Linked DNA regions of Homo sapiens. The protein of the gene in region 5 purifies or fractionates together with the protein of the main gene of each other region. This does not show direct contact. Each region holds a gene or a part of one and is shown on either strand. Other genes may lie near its edges.

Region 1 (3,500 bases), about 22 Mb from region 5:
CCGGGGGTGGAAGGAATGGAGACTTGGCTGGCCTGGGGGTTTGGGGAGGGAAGAGGGAGAAAACACCTTCCAGATTCTCATCAAATCCCTGTTTGTGGTTTGCAGCCTGCAGTCTTCTCCCTCCCTCTCCCTCCCTCTCTCTGTCTGTCTGGGTTTCCCCCTTTCTTTATCTCTTCCTGTCTCTCAGCCTCCCCATCTCTCTCCTTCTCCATCTCAGTCACTCTGTCTCCTTTCTTTTCTCTAAGTCTCTGTCTTCCATTTTTCTGCCTCCTCCTCTCTCTGCCAGCACCTCTGTCTGTCCGTCTCTCCCTGTCCCAGTCCATCTGTCCGTCTCTCTCCGTCTGTCTGTGTGTGGGTGTCTCTGTCCATCTGTTTCACCACCCATCTGTCTGGCTGTCTGTGTTAGTCCTTCCAAGGGTGCCCACTCGCTCCCCAAGGCACCCTCCCCCAGGTCAGCAAGGCCTCTCCTGGCTCAGGGGGTGGGGAGGGGGTGCAGAGCTGCAGCTTCTGGAAGCTTCAGTGGCAGCTGGGCTGAATTGGGAGTTCGGGGCCAGCCAGCTGCAGAAGCAGCCCCTCCCCTGGGCTCCCAGGCCAAGGACCCCAGAGCAGAAGAGGAGAGAAAACAGGGCCTCATTGCAGTTGGGTTTGTGTGTGTGGTGGAGGGGGCTGGAAGGGGGCTGGAGGGAGGCAGGGCCTCACTTTACTCTCACTTCACCATTGCCCCCGGAGCCAGGCCCTGCAGGAGAGGGATCCTTGATGCCCACCTTCCTCATCCCCTGGCCAATGGAAGAGATGCTGGGATCCAGGAGGGAGGGGCCAGGAGAGGCCAGGCCTTGGGCGAAGGAGGGGCTGGGAGCCAGGGCTTCCTGTCAGCTGGGCTGGAGGGGGGCTCCTTCCCTCCTCCTTTCCAGGCAGTCCCTGGGGACCCCTCCTGCTCTGGTCCCAGTTCCAGGCATGAGGGGTTGTTCTTGCCAACTGCACTGGGGCCATTCCCACCTCCATCTACCCATAGGGACGTGGGGGGATCACACCAGTGTCACCCCCACAACAGTGGAGGCTGGTTTTGGCCATGTAGTGACCCTGGCCCTGTCTAGGCACTGGCCATCCTGAATCTAGCACCTCACACACAAATATATACAGTGCATCCCAGTGCTCACCGCCTGCCCAAGCCCCCCAACACCAGCATCCACCGTCATGACATGAACGCAGAGACCAGCACCCTACCTTGCACTGGTGACAGCGCCCCCGTCACAAAGCCAGCAGCTTCAGACAGCATCCCTTAACATTCTCCCTGGCTACTCTGTCCCTGTCCCCCACTCCCTCTCCAATAGCTCACAGTCCAAATCCCACAATGGATGGGGAAACTGAGGCCCAAGAGGAAGGGATGGGAGGACACAGTCATCCCTCCTGAGACCCTGGGGTAGGATCATAAATGAGGAAAGAAGAAAGAGATGCTGCAGGGGCAGAATCAGGCTCCTTCCTGACCTACCATGGGTAAAGTCCATATTGGCTACACCCTCCACACAGCCCTACCACAGGGCCAGGGCCAGGGCCAGGGCCAGGGGCTGGCTCCCTCCCTCTCGAGCTCTCCTTGCCCCTGGTTGGGCCCCCTCCCTCTCCTCCCTTCTGAGCAGCCCTCCCTGCCCTCTCCCTCCCAGCTCTGGCTCTCTCATCCTCAGCTCTTGGAAGCCTGACTCACTGTTTCCCCTCCTCTCTCGCCTCCCTCCCTCTCTCTCCCGGCAGCAGCGGCGCCTCCCCCTCCCCTGGGGGGGCTCTGGCCACAAGGGTGCCTGCCTGCTTCTCTCCCCAGGCTCCGGCCCCCTCCACTCCCAGGAGGCCCCCTGCAGCTGTTCCAATTCTCTAACTACAGTGAGGTGGAGTGCAAACAGCCCAGGTCCCAGCCTGGTCTTGCCAAAGGTATCTGTGACCCTGAGCAAGTGGCTCCTCTCCCTAGACTTGGCTTTCTCTCGTCAAACAAGTGGGGGGCGTCCAACTGGATGATGCTCCTGGCACCTCTGGGACCCTAATGTTTCCCGCTTTTATAACCTGGGTGTCTTTTGGCACAGAGCACCTGACAACCTGTAGGGTGCAGTACCTGCCACAGGCCACGCCCCCCCGGGTCCCAAGAAAAGCTCAGCTCTGTTCCAGGCATTTGGGGAGGGCAGAAGGGAGATGCTACCCTGGGACCTGAAACATTTGTTGAAAACCCTGGAATCTGTCTCCCCATTCTCCCTCCTCCTGTGAGAGTCTCTCTCTCTCTCCCACCTGTCCTCCTCCCTCTTCCCAAACATCTGCTTGTCTCTCCTCCAAAAACAACCCCAGAATCTGATCTTGGGTGAGAGGACCTCAGGGCTGCCTCCTCTCTGGCTCCAGGGAGGGGAGTGGTATATTCCTAGGCCTTCTTGGTCCCCGGCCCCCACCTCCAGGGGCTGTAATTCCAGATTTTCTTGCCTGTTTTCTCTTTCACTCTCATCACTGGCTTTGGTCTCCATCTTTCTCTCTCTTCACCATGCATGTGGTTGTGGGTCGCTCCCCCGCCCCCCTCCCTGGGGGGGGCCCATCTGCAGGCATTAGCAACAATGTTACCCTTGCTTCCTCCCATAGTCCCCAGCTCCACTCCATCCTGGCTTCCGCCTCCCCACTCTGTCCCAAGAGACCCAGGGGACCCAGAGACAGAGCTGGGCTCCATCCCATAATAGTGAGTCTGCTTGACCTCACCAAGCCAGACCAGAAGGGCCTGGGCATCTGGTACACAGGCATGGCACCCCCTGGTCTTGGGTGGCTGGCATGAGACACAGAGCTCTGTGTTCTACAAACCAAAAAAAAAAAACAAAAAAAATTGAAATTGACCTGGGGGTGGGACAGAAGAGGGGAAGGGGGAAATGAGGGAGATCAGGTTTGCCTGGAGGAAGCCCCTGTCCAATGGGGAACAGAAGCATAGAGGTGGGAGTGGTTCAAAGTCAGTGCTCCAGGCTGATTGGAGAACAACAATGTCCCTCTGGGGCTCTGCCAGTCCAGAACAGCTCCCCCTACCCAAATGTCTTCTGCCAGGGGCAGTCTGCCCCTCAAGCCTCCAGCACAACCACAGCAATCAGGTGGAGACCCCATCTTTTAACCTTTTGAATCCAAGTCCAACTTCCCTACTGTACACCTCCACTTAGCTCAGCAGGGGGTTCCAGAAGCCTCCCAGCCCAGATCTAAGCCCATGCAGTGGGGGTAACAAAGTCCCCCAGCTCCCAAACCCCTTCCCCAAAGGCCCCATCAAGGGCTGGGGAGCAATGCAAAATAACCCCAGAACCCTCACGCATTGAAACTGAGAAGCTATGCTGTCCCACAGCGCCTGAGGGTGGTAGGGGCTCCCTGCCCCCACGACCCTGTTCCAGACCCCCCAGCCCAGCAACAATAATAAACAGCAAGCTCTTTTTCTTTATGACACCAAATTTCTCCAAGCCCAACAGCTCCTTCCATCACTACCTCAGCCATAGATCACATTAAAAACT
Region 2 (3,500 bases), on a different chromosome or scaffold from region 5:
ACCCCTCATCTTAACACTTTCACTGTTGGCCAACAGTTGCATTTTTAGGGCTATGTTTAAGGTACGGGTCAGGAATAGATGTGGGTGCAATAAATAAACTCAGAGTAACTGGTAGACTTGATATGGAGTCATATGTGTATTAAGGAATGTTTTACTCTAAACTTTGGTAGTGTTACAGAGCAGGTTCTCTGAAGGCCTGAAATTGCTGAAAATTTATACCTACCTACAACAGTGTCATCTGTTTAATTGACACCCAGTGGTGTATGTGCATGGCCATATTTTGGATGTTAGGCATATGTTTTTACAATATTTAGCTCTTTCCATTACTGATTCCTCTAATAATGAAAGGTTTCAGTTTGTGAGAAATTATTCTTTTTTTTTTTTTTTTCCTTTATAAGAAATGATTCTTTCTTTGTTTTTTGTGGGTTTTTTTTTTTTTTTTTTTGAGATGACGTCTTAGTCTGTCACCCAAGCTGGAGTGCAGTGGCGCAAACTTGGTTCACTGCAGCTCCCGCCAGGATTCTCCTGCCTCAGCCTCCTGAGTAGCTGGGATTACAGGCGTGTGTTGTCATGCCTGGCTAATTTTTTTGTATTTTTAGTAGAGACGGGGTTTCACCATGTTGGCCGGGCTGGTCTTGAACTCCTGACCTCAAGTGATCCACCCACTTCGGCCTCCCAAAGTGCTGGGATTACAGGTATGAGCCACTGCACCCCGCCAAGAAATGATTCTTAAAGAAAACTTGAACAGCAACTTCCTGCTCTTTTCACTTAGTTGACAAATTCTGGATTTATTAAAGGTTACATAGTATAGTTGTCCCTTGGTATCCACGGGGGACGGTTCCTGGACCTCCCTTGGTTACCAAAATCTGGGATGCTCAAGTCCTGGATGTAAAATTGCATAGTGTTTGCATGTAACCTATACACATCTTCCTATGTACTGTAAGTCATTTCTAGGTTACTTATAGTACCTACACAGTGTAAATGCTGTGTAAACAGTTGTTATACTATATTGTTTAGGGAATGATGACAAGAATAAAAAGTCTGTACATTTTCAATACAGATACAATCTGTTTTCTACTGTTTTTTTCTACTATTTTCGGTCAGCAGTTGATTGAATCCACAGATGCAGACCCACAGATACGGAAGGCTGACTATATATTTGTTTTAAAAATCTTCATTTTTGGATTTTAATTATGGCAGACTTTGTTTAAAATAGGTTGTATTTTAGCATCTTGATCGTGCAACTTTTGTAACACTTAATATTTTTATCATAGAAAATATTAAATGACATGGATAATACTGTTTACTTAATGTCATTAACTTATCATCATCATTAGTTCCTTACGTGGTATACTATATTGTGTTTTCAGTACTTCAACTTAATATGGTGATGTTCTTTGTCTTATTAAAAATAGGACAAGGAAAGTGGAGAAGTGATAGTTCATTTCATTGGAATTTCATTGCTCTGAGGGAACTAAACTTGCATACATCTGTCATTTTCCAAGGAGTGACACTTAATGTTTATGGTTATTCTGGAACCCTAGATTGCCATAATGCTTTTGCCTTGCTTGTGAGGCCACCAACAGAGCAGGCAAATGTGCTACTCAGTTTCCAGATGACATCAGATGAACTTCCAAAAGAAAACTGGCTAAAGATGCTGTGTCGACATGTAGCTAACACCATTTGTAAAGCAGATGCTGTAAGTTCTTAAAACAGTATTATAATGAAAGTTTAAATTTCATGACAGTGCATTCAGACTAAACCTGTACATTTTTAATGACTTGTTTATTATGAATGGAGAGTTTTAGTTTTGTGTATATTAAAAAAACTGATGTAATAAGTTGTTTTAGAAAATATTTTATATAGTGTAGGTACACAAAATATTATTTGAGTTCTTGGCTTACATAAGGTAGGCCCTCATAGTCTTATAGCCCCTGTGGCTCTGATTCAGTGAAGATTTTGGGACTTCTTGTAATGTACCCTGTGATTTTTCATTGATACTCTTAGACATGGCTAAAAATTAGAGAGTATTTAGAGATGGGGTTTCACTGTGTTGCCCAGGCTGGTCTTGAACTCTTGAGCTCAGGCAGTCTGCCCACCTTGGCCTCCCAAAATGCTAGGATTACAGGCGTGAGCCACCGTGCCTGGCCAAAAAAAAAAAAAAATCTTATTGAAAGCAAGTTGAAAATGAAAGTTGCCAATCTATTTTTCTCATGTGAACCTCTTAAAAATGAAATGCTATCATAAATATATAATTATCATTATACTATACAGATTAAAGTGAAAATAGATGAGAGAATCAAAATAGGGAAGTTAAATGACTTGCCTGAAATCAGGTATCCCTGGATGAAATCCAGGTCCCTAAAAGATAATTTGATTTCTTCCTCTCTATATATGAGAGAGACACATGTGATAGACAGATATAGACCTCTTACTCTTTGCACAAATGACATAGATTGAAGAGAATATATGGATATAATAGATGACCCTTTTCGGTACAATGGTACTGTAACTGAGATTGCATTGGGTGTTTCTGTGGGAATGAAACATGTAATTACAGTTAAGTGTGAAACCTTGGAAGACATTTAGGTTTAATGTGGTTTATAAAGTAAGTATTCATTGATGAAAACCTCCTTCCAAAGTATTTAGAACAATAATCAGACTTTTTGTTTGTGTGTGTGTGTGTTTAGATTTCTATGGACCAATAATATGTTCTTATAAATAAAAAATTGTTGCACAAAAGATTCAGAGAGGGAAATACAATGCTAACAAATACAATAGAATGCTAGCTAGAAAAATGATGGAGACCACTTTTGTTATAAATCTTTCAAAACTGCTCATTGTAAGGTTTTTTTTTGTAGGTATCCATCCACTTTTTCTAGGTATCCATATATAAAATGGTTTTATCTGTAGAAGTTCCTTAATGCAGAAATTACTCCTGCTCTTATCAGAATGTCAGACTAGATAGTTTATAGAGTCCTTTCCAAACTTATAACCCTAATACTGAAATGAAACATTAACAGAAAATTTTTCTTATAATCTATTGAATTACTAGCCACATGATGGCTAATAGTACTAGAACTGAAATATAATAACATATGGAAGAAATTCATAAGTAAAATTAGCCACAAGATGGCAGCAAACGTTTAACTATGTTCTGACTTATCCTTACACTACAAAATTCTTTCAATCTATTGAAATTTTGTTCTTAAGAAATACGTTTGTAAATTCAGGTACTCGGTGACTTTGGTTGAGCCCTTTCCTGCGTTTAAAGTTCTACATATAGTAAATGTTTATAAAGCCCTGAGAATTTTTCCTGTGAAGATAATGTGTGTGTATATCTACACACACACACACACACACACACACACACGCACACACACACGTGAAAGATGTAAAAAGATATAAAAATCTCTGATTCTTTGAATTAGTAATTTTTGTTTTTGGTACCCTGTATATATATAATTTTTTGGTACCCTAAGTAACCTGAGCTTTCTTAA
Region 3 (2,718 bases), on a different chromosome or scaffold from region 5:
CTGGATGCTGAAAAGCAGGTGACAGCCAGGGGCCAGCTTGGGGGCAGTGGTCCTGGGAGCCTCGGCCTCGTTTGTAGAGGACCAGGGCAGGAGTGCTGGGCCCCAGCCCAGGAAGCCTGCAGTCAAGAGTGTGTGAGGCTGTGAGGGCAGGCTGGGGTGACAATGGGGCTGAATCCCAAGAGGCCCCAGACCTTGGACCCCGCTCAGCTCCCCTACACTGGCAGCCAGTCTATACTCCACAGGCAAGGGAGAGGGGAGGAGAGACGAGGCTGAGGGAGGGAAACCACAGGAAACATTCTAGAACACTCCCCAGCTGAAGGGCATGCAGTCAGGCCCAAGGGGGCTGAGGGTGAAGCCCTCCAGGTCCCAGGGAAACGGACCCTGAAAGGGGCTGCAGGCAGAACGGCCCTGGGGTCTCAGCAACCACAGGCAGCAGGAAACCTAAGGCCACTTGCAGTTCTGAAGAAAGTGACTTTGGCCCAAGAATTCTACCAGCCAGCCAGATAGGCCGGAGGAGAAAGGCAGCTCCAGACGTGAAAGGCATCTCCCAAGTCACCCTGGGACCTTTCTGTCAAGAAGCTATTAGGAAAAAGAAATAAAAAACATACAAAAAAAGCAAGAGCTACCAGAGGATGTGTGTCACCAAGACAAACAGAGTAACTAAGAAAGGCAGCAACATAGGATTCCAAAGCTGGGGGACCCACTCCGGGGAGACCCGGGTGCCCGGGCCAAGGGAGGAGAGATCACGCTCGGCTCAGAGACCACGGGCTCCAGGAGAACAGAATAGCAGACGTGGCAGAGCTGGGGGCTGAATGAGGGATACACAAGTAGAAAGCCAAGCACATTTTACAAACTACAACCTAGGAAAAGGCAAAGCGAATACAGGAGCACGGAGGGCCTCGTGTCGACAGAGCTCCACACGGGAGCACGGCGGGCCTGGTGTCCACGCAGAGCTGAGCACGGTGGGCCTGGTGTCCACACAAAGGGAGAAATGGCAGCCGGGGAGGGCCCAGCCTGGCTCCTCACAGTGCCCTGTGGACTGCCACCCAGTAGGTGTGCAACTTTCATTCAGAAAAGAGAAGCTGGGCACGGTGGCTCAAGCCTGTAATCCCAGTGCCTTGGGAAGCCGAGGTGGGAAGATCGCTTGAGCCTAGTAGTTCAAGACCAGCCTAGGCAACAAGGTGAGACCGTCTCTACAAAACATAAAAAATTTGCCAGGTGTGCTGACCATGCCTGTAGTCCCAGCTACTCAGGAGGCTGAGGCAGGAGGATTGCTTCAGCCCAGGAAGTTATGGCTGCAGTGAGCTGAGATCAGAGATCGCACCACTGCACTCCAGCCTGGGCAACAGAGCAAGACCCTGTCTCAATAAATAAATAAATATATTTTTTAAAAAGAAAGAAAAAGAGGATCTAGGGCAGAAAGCTGCCATCACTGAGCAGCAGGGTCAGGTCGTCAGTGGGCGTGTTAGGGTCTCGTAGGGAAAGGTAGGAGTCACTCACCTGTGCCAGCTGAGCAGGGTTGTAGAAGGGCATGGCCCCGCTGGGAGGGCCCCCTGCAGCAGGGAGGTCGCCAGGAGCCTGAGAAGCACAGAGAAGTCACCTCAGCAGGGCTGCGCTGCACAGCAGCTGTCACTTCAAGTGCAGATACAGACACCGCTTCTGGGTGGGATTTACAGTACTTTTACATAAGCTACAGAAGCAGATCCAAGACACTTCTTGCAACACTGGATTTAGTTATTTAATGGTTCAGAGAAAAATGGTGAAAATCAAAGCAACGTGCAGAGCCAATGTTTTAAGCACCGGAACATGCAATGGGAAGGTGCACACAGCACTGAGGTGGCACCGAGCGTGCGAGGTGGTGAGGAGGTGCCCACGGCTGCAGCTCTAAGGCTCCAGCCATGACACGAGGCCCAGGGCTCTCATTTGCAGGCGGAAGGGTCGCTGCAAGCCTTTCTGCTGAGCCACGGCTGCAGCTGGTGCCTGGACAGGCAGAAGATGAAGCGTTCGTTCACCTCCCTCCCACATTGGCCGCAGGTCACTGCTGCACCCGCCCCGGCCTCAAACCAACGTTCTCATGCTTGATCAGAAAGGAGCAATCTTCCTTCCAAAGGAGAGCATCCTGACCGGGGAAACACTCACTCGGCGAGGCCACGACCCAGGCCCGTCATTGGAAAAACCAATTTGGAAAGAGCAAAATGACAGAACCCACTCATTGACTAGGACACCTCAGGGTCGATCCAGTTGCCCCATGTATGTGGAGACTGAACAGCAAAACCCCCTTTAAGGCCATTTAAAGGAACACTGCTGTAATCTCAGCACTTTGGGAGGCTGAGGCGGGCGGATCACCTGAGGTTGGGACCAGCCTGACCAACATGGAGAAACCCCGTCTCTACTAAAAATACAAAATTAGCTGGGCGTGGTGGCTCATGCCTGTAATCCCAGCTACTCAGGAAGGCCGAGACAGGAGGATGGCTTGAACCCAGGAGGTGGAGGTGGCGGTGAGCTGAGATCACACCATTGCATTCCAGCCTGGGCAACAAGAGCGAAACTCCGTCTCAAAAAAAAAAAAAAAAAAAAAAGGAACCCTGTACCCTTGGTCACGTGACGCTGAGGGAGACAACGGGCGAGGTTAGTGGCAAAGCGCACGTGGCGAACCGGCACCGCGTGCTCAGGAACACAGGCGGCACACGCCAGCTCTCATGTTAGTGAGGACCACCA
Region 4 (3,500 bases), on a different chromosome or scaffold from region 5:
TGCAGCCAGCATCGCCCGCTATCAACGGCCACGGGACCCGCATTACCTCCGAGAGTTTGACACACATCTGCTCCTCCCAGCCTTCCTCTGGTGGAGATTCTGGAAGGAACACCCAGTCCGCACCGCAGGCCAAGGCACTCACCAGGGCCAGGTACCTATGTGGACAAGGCAACAGCATCAACACCCCAGAAGGATCCTTCCCACGAGGGCAGCCCAGGCACCCCGCTCAGCGACAGACGTGCAGACCTAACGCCAGGTATGAAGCGGGATGCCGGCCCCTTCAGGACTTTCCACGGGAGCATTCAGGATGTGGGGTGCAGCCTCAGGGAGATGATGCTGAGGGTCCCCCACCTGAACCGCGTCCACCGGACCCACCGCAGGTACGTACCCACAGTGTCGTCCCATCACCTCCAGAACGAAGGTCCTCTGGTGGCTGGAAGAGAAACAGAGGGAGCCCCGGACACAGCTCAGAAAGCAGAGAAACAGAGGGAGCACCCACTCAGTCCTGGAAACAGCTCAGAAAGCAGAGAAAAGGGGCTTTGACAGCCGAGTTAGCCAGGAGGCCTGCAGGGACCTAGGCTTCAAAAATGGTCCATTTTCTACTAAGGCAAACGCTATGCAGTAGCCTTCCAGACTCCTGCGAGGAAGGGGACTTGAGCCACCTCTGCGCTCTCCAGTTGCACGTTGGACACCTTCTGCCTGCCTGTGCCAGGACACACTCACACTCCCCGGCCCCGTGCTGGGCTCTTTCCCAGATACCTTCTCTATTGGGCACAGTCGGCAGCTGCTGTCGACAGCCACGGCTGGATCTCTCCCACGGAAACAAGTGAGTGCCAGACTCACTAAGTGCTTAATGCCCAGAGACTGTGGGTCTTCCCAGGGAATGGAAAAATCCAACTGCTCCGAGCAGCCTTCCAACTCGGTGATTTTCCACCAACTGTGGGGTTCACGCCCACGCACTGAGAATGTCCAGTGAGGCGTCACTGGGAACAGGACACGCACACAGAGGACTGGGAGGCGCCATGCTGGGGACTGGATTCGGGCACTCTCCCAGTCTCGAGCACCTCGTCCTTAAAGGGGAGACACTTATTCTATTTACCATTCCACATGGTTTTCATGCAAATTGCTTCAGAAATTGTACGGTGCGCCCCACAGTCTTTAGTGATAACCTGCTGAGCCTAGAGCACCTCGGATCAAACGCTGTGGCCCCCACGACACTTCGTGAATCCGTAGGTTACACAGGGCAGGACATCGCTGGCTGCGTTTCTAATGAGTAGTGTGGAAAATCCACACAACAGTTTCCTGCTTGCCACTCCTTCTGGAGATGTTTGGGTAGGACATTTAGAGGATAATTACTTTGTTTCTTCCTTCCAAATTCTAATAAACTGTTTTCTATCATCAGGTTAAAAACAAGGAATGTTTTAAAATTAAAAATGAAAAGTAGACCAGAGAACAATGTTCTGGCAATAGCTCCTAAAAGTCAAGTTACGAGACCAGCACCAGGACACCCAATCTGCAGAATGTTCTAGAGCCCGTGGTAACGTCTGAGCTGGGCACACGTCGGGCCCCACTGGCCTCCCGCCGGTTCCTCTGAGCGCTTTACCTCTGGGCCGTGGTCATGATGGCGTCGACGACCTCGATGATCCTGTGCAGGGCGGAGTCCGTGCCGATGGTCATGTCGGTGCCGCAGAAATCATTGTCGATGGAGCCCACCATGCCCACCACGTTGAGGTAGGCGTACTTCTGCACGGCCTCCTTATCGATCTGGCCTGCGCGGGGAGCAAACAGCACGTCTCATCGCCGTAACCATGGCGCGTTCGGGGGGTGCCCCACTAGGGGTGAGGCAGAATGGCCATGGGTAGAGAAATCAACCATTCTAAACTCTTTGTTATTGGTATCATTTCTTTATTATCATTTTTCTGAGACAGGGTCTCACTGTTGACCAGGCTGGAGTGCAGTGGCACCATCATAGCCCACTGCAGCCTTGAACTCCTGGGCTCAGGCGATCCTTCTGCCTCAGTCTCCTGAGAAGCTAGAACTATGCCTGGCTGATTTCTTAATTTTTTTTGTAGACCCACACTCTATGTTGCCCAGGCGGGTCTTAAATTCCTGGGCTCAAGTGGTCCTTCTGCCTTGGCCTTCCAAAGTGCTGGGATTATAGGTGTGAGCCACTGCCCTGGCCGATTCTTTATTTTCTCCGAACTCAAGGCAACCGGATTCTGCATAGTTAAGGAAAGAGAAGCCAGACAAAGCTGGCAGCAGTTACACACAATGGACTCTGTCACCTGGCACTTAGACAAGAGCAGTGGATTAGAAAAATAAAAGAAAGGATCCACATTTGCAATCGGTAAACAAACATCTCAGTACTTCCTGGCAACAGCTTCAGAGAATGACACGGCTTTGAACAGGATACGTTACAATTACGGAATTAAGAATCTAAGACACTAGGCCATCTTCACACTGATTTCTCATGCATCTGTGGGAAGCTGGATCGTGGGTGAGCATCTGCCTCGCACTCAGGACAGACCTGGGCTGGGCAGTTCTGCATAAAGGGAATCGGAACCACTGAAGGGCCAGGGGCAAGCTTGGGCCCGGACTTGTGGCCACTGTCCCGGTCTGTGCACTCACTGTGCTGTGCCAGACGGGATGAGGTGGACAAGCGGGAACCGTGAGGCCTGGCTGCTTCCAACGGGCAGCCTTCTCCATCCCCTACGAGGATGTTCACAAACCTGGGGACAGCTGCTTTGCCTCAATGCCGCCTCTCATCGAGTTGCTGTTAAACAATATGCTTCCCTGGTCATATTTAATATTGCACTGAAATTACATAACCGCTTCAAGGGAGAAAAACTACACTTTGGGAGGCCGAAGCGGGTGGATGACCTGAGGTCAGGAGTTCGAGACCAGCCTGGCCAACATGGCGAAACCCTATCTCTACTAAAAATAAAAAATAAATAAAAAAATTTTAAAAAAGCTGGGTGTGGTGGCGCATGCCTGTAATCCCAGCTGCTTGGGAGGCTGAGGCAGGAGAATTGCTTGAACCCAGGAGGCAGATGTTGCAGTGAGCCGAGATCGTGCCACTGCACTCCAGCCTGGGCAATGGAGAAAGACTCTGTCTCAAAACAAACAAAATCAAACAATCAAACAAAACAAAAATAAACCACATACACACAGGGCTCTCAGAAACGCTTTCCTAAGTAGTGCCAAAGTTGGTACTGGATGATGTATTGGCAGAGATTTATCGTCTAAATAAATTAAAGTCCTGTGGCAACTTCAGTTTTTTTTTTTTTTTTTTTTTTTGAGACAGAGTCTCGCTCTGTCGCCCAGGCTGGAGTGCAGTGGCGGGACCTCGGCTCACTGCAAGCTCCGCCTCCCGGGTTCACGCCATTCTCCTGCCTCAGCCTCCCAAGTAGCTGGGACTACAGGCGCCCGCCACTACGCCCGGCTAATTTTTTGTATTTTTAGTAGAGACGGGGTTTCACCGTTTTAGCCGGGATGGTCTC
Region 5 (3,500 bases):
GCACGCGTGCAGGAGTTGTGCGTGTAGGGGTCTGTGAGATGTGCAGGGAGTGTGTGAGGTGTGTGCAGACATGCAGTTGTGTGTGTGCAGGGAGTATGTGAGGTGTGTGTGCAGGTGTGCACTTGTGTGCAGGGGGTGGTGTGTGAGGTGTGCCTGCAGGGGGTGTGTCATGCCCGGGTGCGTGAGGCCGGCATGGGGTGTGGAGTGTGTGTTTCAGCTTTTGACCTTTTGGGGTCAGCTCTCTAGGGTGGTGGTCATCGCTTAAGGTGGACTTGAGATGTCCCTAGAGGCTCACTCACAGGATGCCATGCTGGCTCTTGGGATGGGCTGTGAGGACTGCAGGTGGGACCTCAGGCCTTTGGCTTCAGGCAGAGCCGGGTTTCCACCTGGGATCTGCTGTTCCCTTTGTTCCTGGCAGCCTCAGCCTTCTCTGGCACAGTGAGGCCGGTTGGTGATGGTTGCTGCCTGGAGAGTCAGTGTGAGAGGAGGCTGGTGGCTCCCAGCTGGGTGGCAGTGGTGTCTCTAAGCACAGGTGCTGGTCGCCTAATGGTGTTGCTTCCTGACCTGCTTGTGCTGTTCGGTTCCTGCAGGCCTCTCCTGGGTTGAGCAACGAGAAGGGCATGGACGCCGTGTCACCTTGGAAGTCCAGCGCAGTGCCCACTAAACACGCCAAGGTAAAGGGGCAACGGAGGACAAACTGATCTCGGGGCTTCCTGGGTATTCCCAGGGCCTGACCCTTGTGTCCTTCTCTCCCCTCCTGGAGGGGAGGGCTGGGGCCAGGTCAGGGCAGGGGTGGCGTGGGCCTGGGAATGGCCTTTTCCGTGTCCTCGCTGGGCAGGGCAGCTCCGTCTGGGCGCTGGCACAGCCTGCATGGTATCTGGTCGGAAATGCCTCCTTGGTGGCCGCCTTCTCACAGCCCAGGGCTCTCCGGGTGTGAAGCCGCAGTTCCCGTGGTGGCTGCCACAGCCTGCGGCCACTCCTTGAGCCTCACGCAGAGCATTCCCTGGTGTGTGAGTGTGTGGTGTGGTTCTTCCTGGAAATAAGACGTAGTCCTTGGTTACGTCCCTTGCTAAGCGAAGGCCGTATAGTAAGGCACCTGCTTCTCAACAGCTGGCTGAGACATTCTCAGGAGGAGCTTGAGACACTGCTGCTTTATGGCAGTTTCTGAAGGTTGTTTTTTATTCGGTAGAAACATGCCTTTTGTAGTAGTTGGGAAGTGAAAAACAAAATTAAAAAGCTTTGGTCTTTCTTACACATTGCCTGGAGGACAGAATTCAGAGTTCAGCGCAGTCCTGTGAGGCTGTGGCGTTCCCGTGGCCCGGGTCTCACTGTGGTTGCAGCCTGGCCCTCTGTGTCCACCGGGCCCCATCACCAGTGAAAACTTGCTTTATTTTATTTAAGTGTGCAGCCACAGCTTTGCCTTGATCTAAGGAATGTATCTGATCTTTATTGAGTGCTCTAGGTTAACGCTTTTTCCTTACATGAGTGGGAAGTCCCAGCCATCGCGTCCTGTTGCCAAAACCGTTGGGAGGAAGGTTTTCCTCTGCTAGCTCAGGTCTGAATGGTAAGGGCTGCAGGTGGATGACCGTAGACAGAGGGACAGCAGCAAAGACGGGCCTTACCGTTGTGAGCCCGTGGCAGCATTGGGAAGTGAGTAGCTTGCCAAATGCCCAGAGGTCGAGGTTTCTGTGCCAATGTAGCACAAAGGGGGCGAGGGCCAGGGCCTCCGTGGGAAGACGGGGACATTCTGTTGTCTCTTTATGCTGTGAGCATGGCCAGTCTGTGACCTTCCTGGAATTTGCAGGATGCTTTCACTTACACTTTCACATAGGGGTTTAATGGCAGCTGCACTTTCAGGTGGCTGTGCACTAGTCAGATAAGGAAAGTTCAGGTAAGATTTCTTTTCACCTTAAAATAATCTTTACGTCAGAAATATGATCTCTTCACATGAATTTGGAGTTTGAAGGGAAATCCTAGACACTGTGTTAGTTTACCCATAATTACTGCAGTGTGTATCTCTGACTGATAAGGACTTTTCTTTTTATCATGACTGCATGCTGTTGTTGCTGCCCCCAGTCAACGCAGACCTCGGCATCGTCTGCTGGGGCTGTAACCACGGGCCTTTCTACCACTGGTGCGTTTGGATCAGGACCCGCTGTCCTGGGGTGCTCCGCCTCTGGAGTTGCTCAGTGGGCAGACCACGTTGTCCATGAAGGCCACCCACAGAGGCCATGCTGGCTGTCACCGTGCTCAGGTGCTGATGGCCTGATGCCATCACCCGTGTCTCCCTCACTCGCATCCAGCTGAGGCTCCTGGCCCACTGCGTGTTCCATCCAGGGTGGAAAATGGTGAAATTGCAGTCCTGTCATTCTTCCTGTGATCTTTCTACAAACAAGGACTTTCCCGATCAGCAGTTTGGTTACCCTAAAATATACTTTGTACTTGAAAGTGAGGATGAATGTTAGAATCATTCCCTTTATCAATTTTCAAATAAATGAGCTGCGTCCTAGCAGCCTCCAGAGACAGTCCATGTTTGCGGCGTCTCATGATGGACACCGAGGCGTTATATTTGTATTTCTCATCCCATGGAGGCACCGCTCTTAGACGCTGGAACTGCCCTCTCTCAGGCCACCGCCATCCTTTTCAAGTTAACTCCTGTGCCTTTTTTAAATAACAAGTAGTTATTTTGAAATAATTTAGAACTTAGGGAAGAGTTACAGGAAGAGTGCAGAGTCCCCACATAGGGTTTTCCCAGACTTCCCGGTCACTAACCTTTGCCATGTTTGCCTCGCCACTCTCTGTTTGTGCATTTTTCTTGAACAATTTGAGAATAAATTATCAGGTAATGCCCTTTACTCCATGACACTTCGAGCTGGGTTATCTTGAAAATAAGGCCACTGTCCTCTGTGGTCAAAGGAGAGCCATGAAAATTAGGGAACTGACGCTCCTCTTCTGTCATCACAGGCCCCATTCACATTCACAAATGTCCCAGCACTTGATAGATGGCCCGTCCAGTGGCCCCCACCAGCCTGCTGCCCATGGAGTCCTTCTGGCGTGGCTGCAGCTGTTGTGAAGTGCACAGGCGGTTATCCTGCAGGGCGTGCCCAGTGGGGCTGGTCTGGTGTTCGTTTCAGTTAGACCCAGGTTATGCACTTGGGGCAGGACCTCCACAGACATTTGCCGTGTCCTCTACGAACATCATACTGTGAGGGACACCGTGTTGCTTTGTCCTGTTACTGGCGATGTTACTGTTTTCATTCAGTTAAGATGACATCTGCCATGCTTTTTTCCTGTAATATCAGGAAATGTCTAGTAATTAGAAAGTCATGAGTAAGTATCTTGTTGGGAGATACTGAGGCCGTTCAAATACCCTATTCTTCATCAGACTTTGACGCACTAGGTGTCAGTGTGCACTGATGACCTGGCCCGAGTTGGTTGGTAGTGGGATGCTTGCCTGCCATGGATTTTCCAATTCCATCATTCCTTCTCTGTTGATTACT
Region 6 (3,500 bases), on a different chromosome or scaffold from region 5:
TCAACCTTCCTGGGCTGAAGCAATCCTCCTGCCTCAGCCTCCCGAGTAGCTGGCACTACAGGCATGCACCACCACACCCAGCTAATTGTTTTTACACTTTTTGTAGAGATGGGGTTTCACTGTGTTGCCCAGGCTGGTCTTGAACTCTCGAGTTCAAGTGATCTGCCTGCCTCAGCCTCCCAGACTGCTGAGATTACAGGCAATAGCCATCACACCCAGCCCGTTGTCTTTAGTAGTTTTACTCTGGGCACTATTAGGTAGGACGCTTTGAGACATGCTAGGTGATAGATAATACCTCTGTGTGTGCATGCGCACAGACACACACACACACACACACACACACACACACACGGCACTTACCTGGTTTAACTTACATTTAAGGTGATCATGTCTTGTTTTCAAAAGTACTCTTCCCTATTGTTTAATCACAATATATGTGGAATTGTTTAAGTAAAGCAAATTTTAAGTAGTCAAGATAAACCAGAATATGAGGATTTGAATTAGGCTCTTTATTTCAAAAGCATATCCTTTGCTCAAATATTCTCCCCTTGATGCCTATTGGAATTTTTCTTGTAACTGTTTTAAGGCTTTTGAGACATTACTGTTTTCTTTCATAGAAGTGTTGAAATCCTTTCCTGTTAGTATGTCTGCTGCAAGTAGAATGGCATAACTTCAAAATATTATTTGTTCCAGAAACTAGCTTTGGTGGAAGATTCACTTCTAATAGTAATATTTCAACCTGTTAAGCAGGAAAAAAAAGTTCTCTTGGGTTTGTATGGTCCCTTTCTTCATTTTGCTATTGCAAACTTAGGAATTAATTAGCAGGCTTTTATGTTCTATACTGCTGCATCATGTTTCTTTCTGTTAATATGTTGTATTTTATTTCCAGAACACTGGAGTTCCTGATGAGACACTTGTCTCTTCTAGCTGACTATTGTTCCATCACAAATATGCATGCAAAAAATCTAGCAATTGTTTGGGCTCCAAACCTGTTAAGGTAATTTGCATTTCACTTATTAATTTTAGTAGAACTAATCCTAAATAAAAGGCTGATTCATCAGTGTTCTTTAAGGAAACTTTTAAAAGATTAAACAAATCTGTTCTTTTTATTTGCATCTCCCTAAAACAGGCAACTGGGCCTTAGCTAAGGGACAGTAAAAGTATGATTTCTTCCTCTGTTTGTCTGAGATTTACACGTTTAAAAAAAGAGGCCCTTGACGACTGCTATCTTTACAACTCTGTGATGAAAATGTTTACCTCACAGATCAAAACAGATAGAATCTGCCTGCTTCAGTGGAACAGCAGCTTTCATGGAAGTGAGGATTCAGTCTGTGGTTGTTGAGTTCATCCTGAATCACGTTGATGTGCTGTTCAGCGGCAGAATCAGCATGGCCATGCAAGAGGGGGCAGGTACGGCTCCGATGGCCCTTCCTACCAGGAGGGTGTGTCTCAGCTTCCAGAGGAGTAGCAAACCATGCATTTCTTATTGCAACAACAAAAACGTGTCACTGGTATAAGGCAGCTAATAATGTATGGCTGCTTACCAAAATGCACAATTTGACAGTTATTTTGTGTGTATATAGTGAATACTACATATGAGACCTATTGTGATCTAAGTTCATGACACATTAAAAAACTTGTCGTTCATTATTGATGTGTATTAAAGTATAAAGTGGAACAGAAGAAGAAAAATTGCTTCCAAAACTAAAAATATCTGAGTGATTGATCACCTTTCCTCATATCTTTTAAGAAAGGAAAACAGTTATTAAAGAGTTTTATATGTGTGTATGTGTGCCACTGGTGTATCCCCTTCAGTTTTTTATTTAATATAAAGCTTTTCTCATATCTTTTAAGAAAGGAAAACAGTTATTAAAGGGTTTTATATGTATGTATGTGTGCCACTGGTATGTCCCCTTCAGTTTTTCATTTAATATAAAGCACTATGGTTTTTGCTATTTAACATACTTGAAGAAAATTTGAAACAACAGATAGGTAGATAGATGGAGAGATAGATACTAACAAATTGAATACACTCACGTAGTTGACTCTCTTCATCAGCTTCCTTTTCTTTTTGAAGCTTCTCTATCAAGGCCCAAGTCCCTCCTGGTATCCTCTCCATCCACCAAACTGCTGACATTGGAAGAGGCCCAGGCACGAACACAAGCTCAGGTCAATTCTCCAATTGTGACGGAAAATAAATATATCGAAGTAGGAGAAGGACCTGCTGCACTTCAGGGGAAATTTCATACCATAATTGAGTTCCCACTTGAAAGGTAAAATTTGTTAAATCCTATTTTGGGATATGATTTTCATAGCTATGTCCTATTATTTTCTTTTAGTTTGCTTTTAATTTTGTATTTTAGTATTACTCTATTGAATTCTAGGCTAGTCCCAGAGAAACCTGTTTATTCGAATATGGATGATACTTACCGCTTCATGGGGAATGATGCAAATGATTCTTGCTTTACAATGTCATGTAATTTTATAAAAGAAGAACATCAGTGGTATAGGGAAAATTGTTTGGAAAAATAAGGATATACTGTCACTATATGGGTTGATTTTGCTCTCTGAACTATGTTGTTTATAAAGTTGTTTAGAAATAAGCTGTGTTGGAAGAGTTTGTTCAGAAAGTCAGGAATGGACAGTGACTTGTTTGACATTGGTTTCACATTAAGGTTAGAAGAGATTAATAGTGTGGTCTCCCAGCCAACAGCATCAGCATCACCTGGTGATAATTGCTAGAAGTGCACATTGTGCAGTCGTCCAGTCACACCCCAGACCCGCTGAATCAGAAACCCTGGGCGTGGGACCCAGCAACTGGTCATTCATCTAACTTTCCAGGTGATTCTGATGTCTGCTAGGACTTGAGAACCACTGCAGCAGTTCACTCTTTCAATGTCCCTTCCAGCTCTGAAATTCTATTACTCTAAAGAAATGATAATAACATGGTTTCTGTATCTTCTTTACTAGGTTATAGTAGGAAGACTAATGTATGTAAAAGTTATTTTTGATGTCTCTGCTACTCCTTTGGCTATTACACATGAATGTAAGGATTTTGATTCTCTGGATTGGGTAGTACTAATATAACTTTAGAATTTGTTCTTCCCGTATTTTAGTATACTCCTCTAACTTCCTTTCACTTCCTGTGACTAAAAACATTCTATCAGCAAAAAGTTGGAACATACTCTTACTTTGTCATCCTGAGTTTGTCTTTAGCATCTTGATTTTATATTCTAGTTCCATAATTTACTCAAAGATTTATTTATGGAGTAGTAGTTAAGAGAGTAGATACTGGGATGTAGATTGGCCTGGGTTCCAATTCTGACTCCATCATTTAATAGTTTTATAATGTTAAAGAAGTTATTTGAACTTCTTAGTGTCATAATTTCCTTGGCTGCAAAATGAGAATAATAGTACTTACCTCATGTGGTTGTATCTGATTTAAAGGAGATATTACATATAAGGCAGGTAGCACAGTGCCTGGCATTCAGTATATGTTT
Region 7 (3,500 bases), on a different chromosome or scaffold from region 5:
GCAACCTGGTACATTGTAATCCAAAGTAAGTTGTCCATAAAAAGTGGCTTTTGTTTTTTAGCATGAAAACTTTCCTCAGTTTTAAAAACTGGTTTCCATATTGCAATTTAGTGTTACATGGAAGTTCTAAAATGACCCATCACAATGTAAAGTTCACAATATGGTTCAAATATAACAATGCAGAATTGAATATAGAGGTATACATAACCTTCCTCTTAGAAAACAAAAGAAGCGGGCCAGGCATGGTGGCTTGTGCCTGTAATCCCAGCACTTTGGGAGGCTGAGGCAGGCAGATCACAAGGTCAGGAGTTCGAGACCAGCCTGGCCAACATCGTGAAACCCCCGTCTCTACAAAAATACAAAAATTAGCTGGGCATGGTGGCACGCACCTGTAATCCCAGCTACTCAGAAGGCTGAGGTAGAAGAATTGCTTGAACCCGGGAGGGGGAGGCTGCAGTAAGCTGAGATCGCACCACTGCACTCCAGCCTGGGCAACAGAGTGAGACTCCATCTCAAAAAAAAAAAAAAAGAAAAGAAAAGAAAAGCAGTTGCAATTTCAAATTTTTGTGCAATGAAATTAAATCATAATGCAACAGTTAAAAAATAATGATTATAAAATGAAGCAAACACACACAAAAACACAAAATAATGAAGTCTTTTGAACATCCAAATGGCCAAACGCTCCATGCCTACTTTTAAAATTGTAAATGAAAATGAGAAGAAGCTGAGTGTGGTAGCCCACACCTGTAATCCCAACACTCTGGGAAGCCAAGTCAGGAAGACCACTGGAGGCCACGAGTTCAAGACCAGTCTGAGCAACAGAGTGAGACCTCCATCTCCATTTAAAAAAAAAAAAAAAGTCAGATGTAGTGATATGCCAGGTAGTCACAGCTACCCAGGAGGCTGAGGTAAGAGGATTGTATGAGTCCAGGAGGTCAAGGCTACCATGAGCTGTGATCATGCCACTGTCCTCTAGCCTGGGTGACACAGCAAGAGTGTCTCAAAAAAAAAAATTATTATTTTATTTAATTTTTTTTGAGACAGAGTCTCGCTCTGTCGCCCAGGCTGGAGTGCAATGGCGCGATCTCGGCTCACTGCAAGCTCCTCCTCCTGGGTTCACGCCATTCTCCTGCCTCAGCCTCCCGAGTAGCTGGGACTACAGGTGGCCGCCACCACGCCCAGCTAATTTTTTTTTTTTTTGTATTTTTAGTAGAGACGGCGTTTCACTGTGTTAGCCAGGATGGTCTCGATCTCCTGACCTCATGATCCGCCCGCCTCGGCCTCCCAAAGTGCTGGAATTACAGGTGTGAGCCACTGTGCCTGGCCAAAATTTTTTAATAAATTAAAAAGAAAATGAGAAGTTGTCTTTCTCAAAATGAATGTTTATTTGCAGTGTTGACAGGCAAAGACAAAATGCCGACATCAGTTATCCAAATGTTCTGATTTTTTTCTCTTCCTCCAAATAAAAATAATTGTTTTAATTCAATCACTTAAATTGTGGTTAATCTGAAACTACTGATGTTTGATTCAATTATTTTTAAAAATCTCCTCATAACTTTTCATAGGTTTTCCATTCTGAAAATGAACCAATGTTTTAAATGAATTCCAATTTAATACAAATTTATTTCCCAAGTAAACATCAGTTATTTGGATGTACCCTAAAAAGCACAATAAAAAGACCATTGAGCTTGGCATTAGATGCAGTCTTATGTGAGAAACTTAATTTCCCTGAGCCCAGTTTCATCATTTAAAAATGGATCTAATACCCACAGCCATATTGTATTACTATTTCAGGATTAGCTGAAAGAATACACTAAAAGTACTTAGGACTATGTCTGATGCATATTAATTAGATGCTCAGCCAGGCACAGGTGGCTCACACCCGTAATCACAGCACTTTGGAGGCCAAGGTGGGAGGATGATTTGAGCCCAGCCAGGAGTTTGAGACCAGCCTAGACAACATAGGGACACCCTGTCCCTACAAAAAATAGAAAAAATTAGCCAGGCGTGCTGGCGTATGCCTGTAGTCCCAGCTACTCGAGAGGGTAAGATTGGAGGATCACTTGAGCCTAGGAGGTGGAGGCTGCAGTGAGCTGAGATCACATCACTGCACTCCAGCCTTAGCAACAGAGCAAGGCCTTGCAGAAGGGGAAGAGGGGAGGGGAGGGGAGGATGGGAGACAATATTTTATTTTCCTTTTTTGTTTTTTTGAGATGGAGTCTTGCTCTGTCACCCAGGCTGGAGTGCACTGGGTCAATCTCAGCTCACTACAACCTCTGCCTCCCAGGTTCAAGCGATTCTCCTGCCTCAGCGTCCTGAGTAGCTGGAATTACAGGCTCGTGCCACCATGCCCAGCTAATTTTTGTATTTTTAGTAGAAACAGGGTTTCACCATGTTGGCCAGGCTGGTCTTGAACTCCTGACCTCAAGGGATCCTCCTGCCTCGGCCTCCCAAAGTGCTGGGATTACAGGCGTGAGCCACCATTCCTGGACGGGAGACAATATTTTCAAATGCTGTATCTAATAAGTAACTGGTATCTAGAATAAAGAATTCAAATAGATTATTTCTCCAAAGGAGAAATACTGGCCAAAGTATATAAAAAGATGCTCAAGGCTGGGCACGGTGGCTCACACCTGTAATCCCAGCACTTTGGGAGGTCGAGGCAGGCTGATCACTTGAGGTCAGAAGTTCGTGACCAGCCTGACCAACATGGTAAAACCCCATCTCTGCTAGAAAAACTGCAAAAATTACCTGGGCGTGGTGGCACACGCCTGTAATCCCAGCTACTCGGGAGGCTGAGGCTGGAGAATCACTTGAACCCAGGAGGCGGAGGTTGCTGTGAGCCAAGATTGTGCCACTGCACTCCAGCTTGGGCGACAGGGCAAGACTCTGTCTCAAAAAAAAAGAAAAAGAAAAACATGTTCAACATCATTGGTCATTAGGGAGATGCAAATCACAACCACTTCATACCTACTAGGATGACTATGTTCAAAACAATGAACAGTAACGAGTGTTAGCATGGATGCAGATAAACTGGAACCCTCATATATTGCTGGCAGAAATAAAATTATATGGTTGTTTTGGAAAACAATTTTGCAGTTTCTCAAAAAGTTTAATACATAGAGTTACCATATGACCCAGGAATTCTACCCCTAGGTACATACTCAACAGAACTGAAAATATATGTCCACACAGAAACTTGTATGCAAGTGTTCATAGCCGCATTATCCACATATAACCTTCCTCTTAGAAAACAAAAGTACCTAAAAAGTAGAAACAACCCAAATGTACATCAACTGATGAATGGATGAATAAAATATATATAGGCTGGGTGTGGTGGCTCACACCTGTAATCCCAGCACTTTGGGAGGCCAAGGCAGGCGATTCACTTGAGGTCAGGAGTTTGAGACCAGTCTGGCCAACATGGTGAAACCCCATCTCTACTAAAAATACTAAAATCAGCTGGGCATGGTGGTATGCACTTGCAATCCCAGGTACTT

The links.
Region 1: the proteins of NPHP4 (region 5) and AHDC1 purify together in Homo sapiens (co-immunoprecipitation; one large-scale study listed by IntAct). This does not show direct contact.
Region 2: the proteins of NPHP4 (region 5) and ECT2 purify together in Homo sapiens (affinity purification with mass spectrometry, with the first as the bait; one large-scale study listed by BioGRID). This does not show direct contact.
Region 3: the proteins of NPHP4 (region 5) and SEC16A purify together in Homo sapiens (co-immunoprecipitation; one large-scale study listed by IntAct). This does not show direct contact.
Region 4: the proteins of NPHP4 (region 5) and PFKP purify together in Homo sapiens (co-immunoprecipitation; one large-scale study listed by IntAct). This does not show direct contact.
Region 6: the proteins of NPHP4 (region 5) and ARHGAP32 purify together in Homo sapiens (co-immunoprecipitation; one large-scale study listed by IntAct). This does not show direct contact.
Region 7: the proteins of NPHP4 (region 5) and NEK4 purify together in Homo sapiens (affinity purification with mass spectrometry, with the first as the bait; one large-scale study listed by BioGRID). This does not show direct contact.

What each region holds. Positions count from the first base shown.
Region 1 is NC_000001.11:27,597,645-27,601,144, forward strand, and holds part of AHDC1 (transcription factor Gibbin), read right to left. Parts: intron 1-3,500. UniProt on the Homo sapiens protein: Transcription factor required for the proper patterning of the epidermis, which plays a key role in early epithelial morphogenesis. Directly binds promoter and enhancer regions and acts by maintaining local enhancer-promoter chromatin architecture.
Region 2 is NC_000003.12:172,806,226-172,809,725, forward strand, and holds part of ECT2 (protein ECT2), read left to right. Parts: intron 1-1,544; coding exon 1,545-1,699; intron 1,700-3,500. UniProt on the Homo sapiens protein: Guanine nucleotide exchange factor (GEF) that catalyzes the exchange of GDP for GTP. Promotes guanine nucleotide exchange on the Rho family members of small GTPases, like RHOA, RHOC, RAC1 and CDC42.
Region 3 is NC_000009.12:136,442,323-136,445,040, forward strand, and holds part of SEC16A (protein transport protein Sec16A), read right to left. Parts: intron 1,579-2,718; coding exon 1,501-1,578; intron 1-1,500. UniProt on the Homo sapiens protein: Acts as a molecular scaffold that plays a key role in the organization of the endoplasmic reticulum exit sites (ERES), also known as transitional endoplasmic reticulum (tER).
Region 4 is NC_000010.11:3,102,048-3,105,547, reverse strand, and holds part of PFKP (ATP-dependent 6-phosphofructokinase, platelet type), read right to left. Parts: intron 1,770-3,500; coding exon 1,604-1,769; intron 940-1,603; exon of another isoform or gene 434-939; coding exon 389-433; intron 156-388; coding exon 47-155; intron 1-46. UniProt on the Homo sapiens protein: Catalyzes the phosphorylation of D-fructose 6-phosphate to fructose 1,6-bisphosphate by ATP, the first committing step of glycolysis.
Region 5 is NC_000001.11:5,870,426-5,873,925, reverse strand, and holds part of NPHP4 (nephrocystin-4), read left to right. Parts: intron 1-590; coding exon 591-674; intron 675-3,500. UniProt on the Homo sapiens protein: Involved in the organization of apical junctions; the function is proposed to implicate a NPHP1-4-8 module. Does not seem to be strictly required for ciliogenesis. Required for building functional cilia.
Region 6 is NC_000011.10:128,979,326-128,982,825, reverse strand, and holds part of ARHGAP32 (rho GTPase-activating protein 32), read left to right. Parts: intron 1-889; coding exon 890-997; intron 998-1,264; coding exon 1,265-1,410; intron 1,411-2,077; coding exon 2,078-2,273; intron 2,274-2,970; coding exon of another isoform or gene 2,971-2,977; exon of another isoform or gene 2,978-3,500. UniProt on the Homo sapiens protein: GTPase-activating protein (GAP) promoting GTP hydrolysis on RHOA, CDC42 and RAC1 small GTPases. May be involved in the differentiation of neuronal cells during the formation of neurite extensions.
Region 7 is NC_000003.12:52,746,941-52,750,440, forward strand, and holds part of NEK4 (serine/threonine-protein kinase Nek4), read right to left. Parts: intron 2,890-3,500; coding exon 2,752-2,889; intron 1-2,751. UniProt on the Homo sapiens protein: Protein kinase that seems to act exclusively upon threonine residues. Required for normal entry into proliferative arrest after a limited number of cell divisions, also called replicative senescence.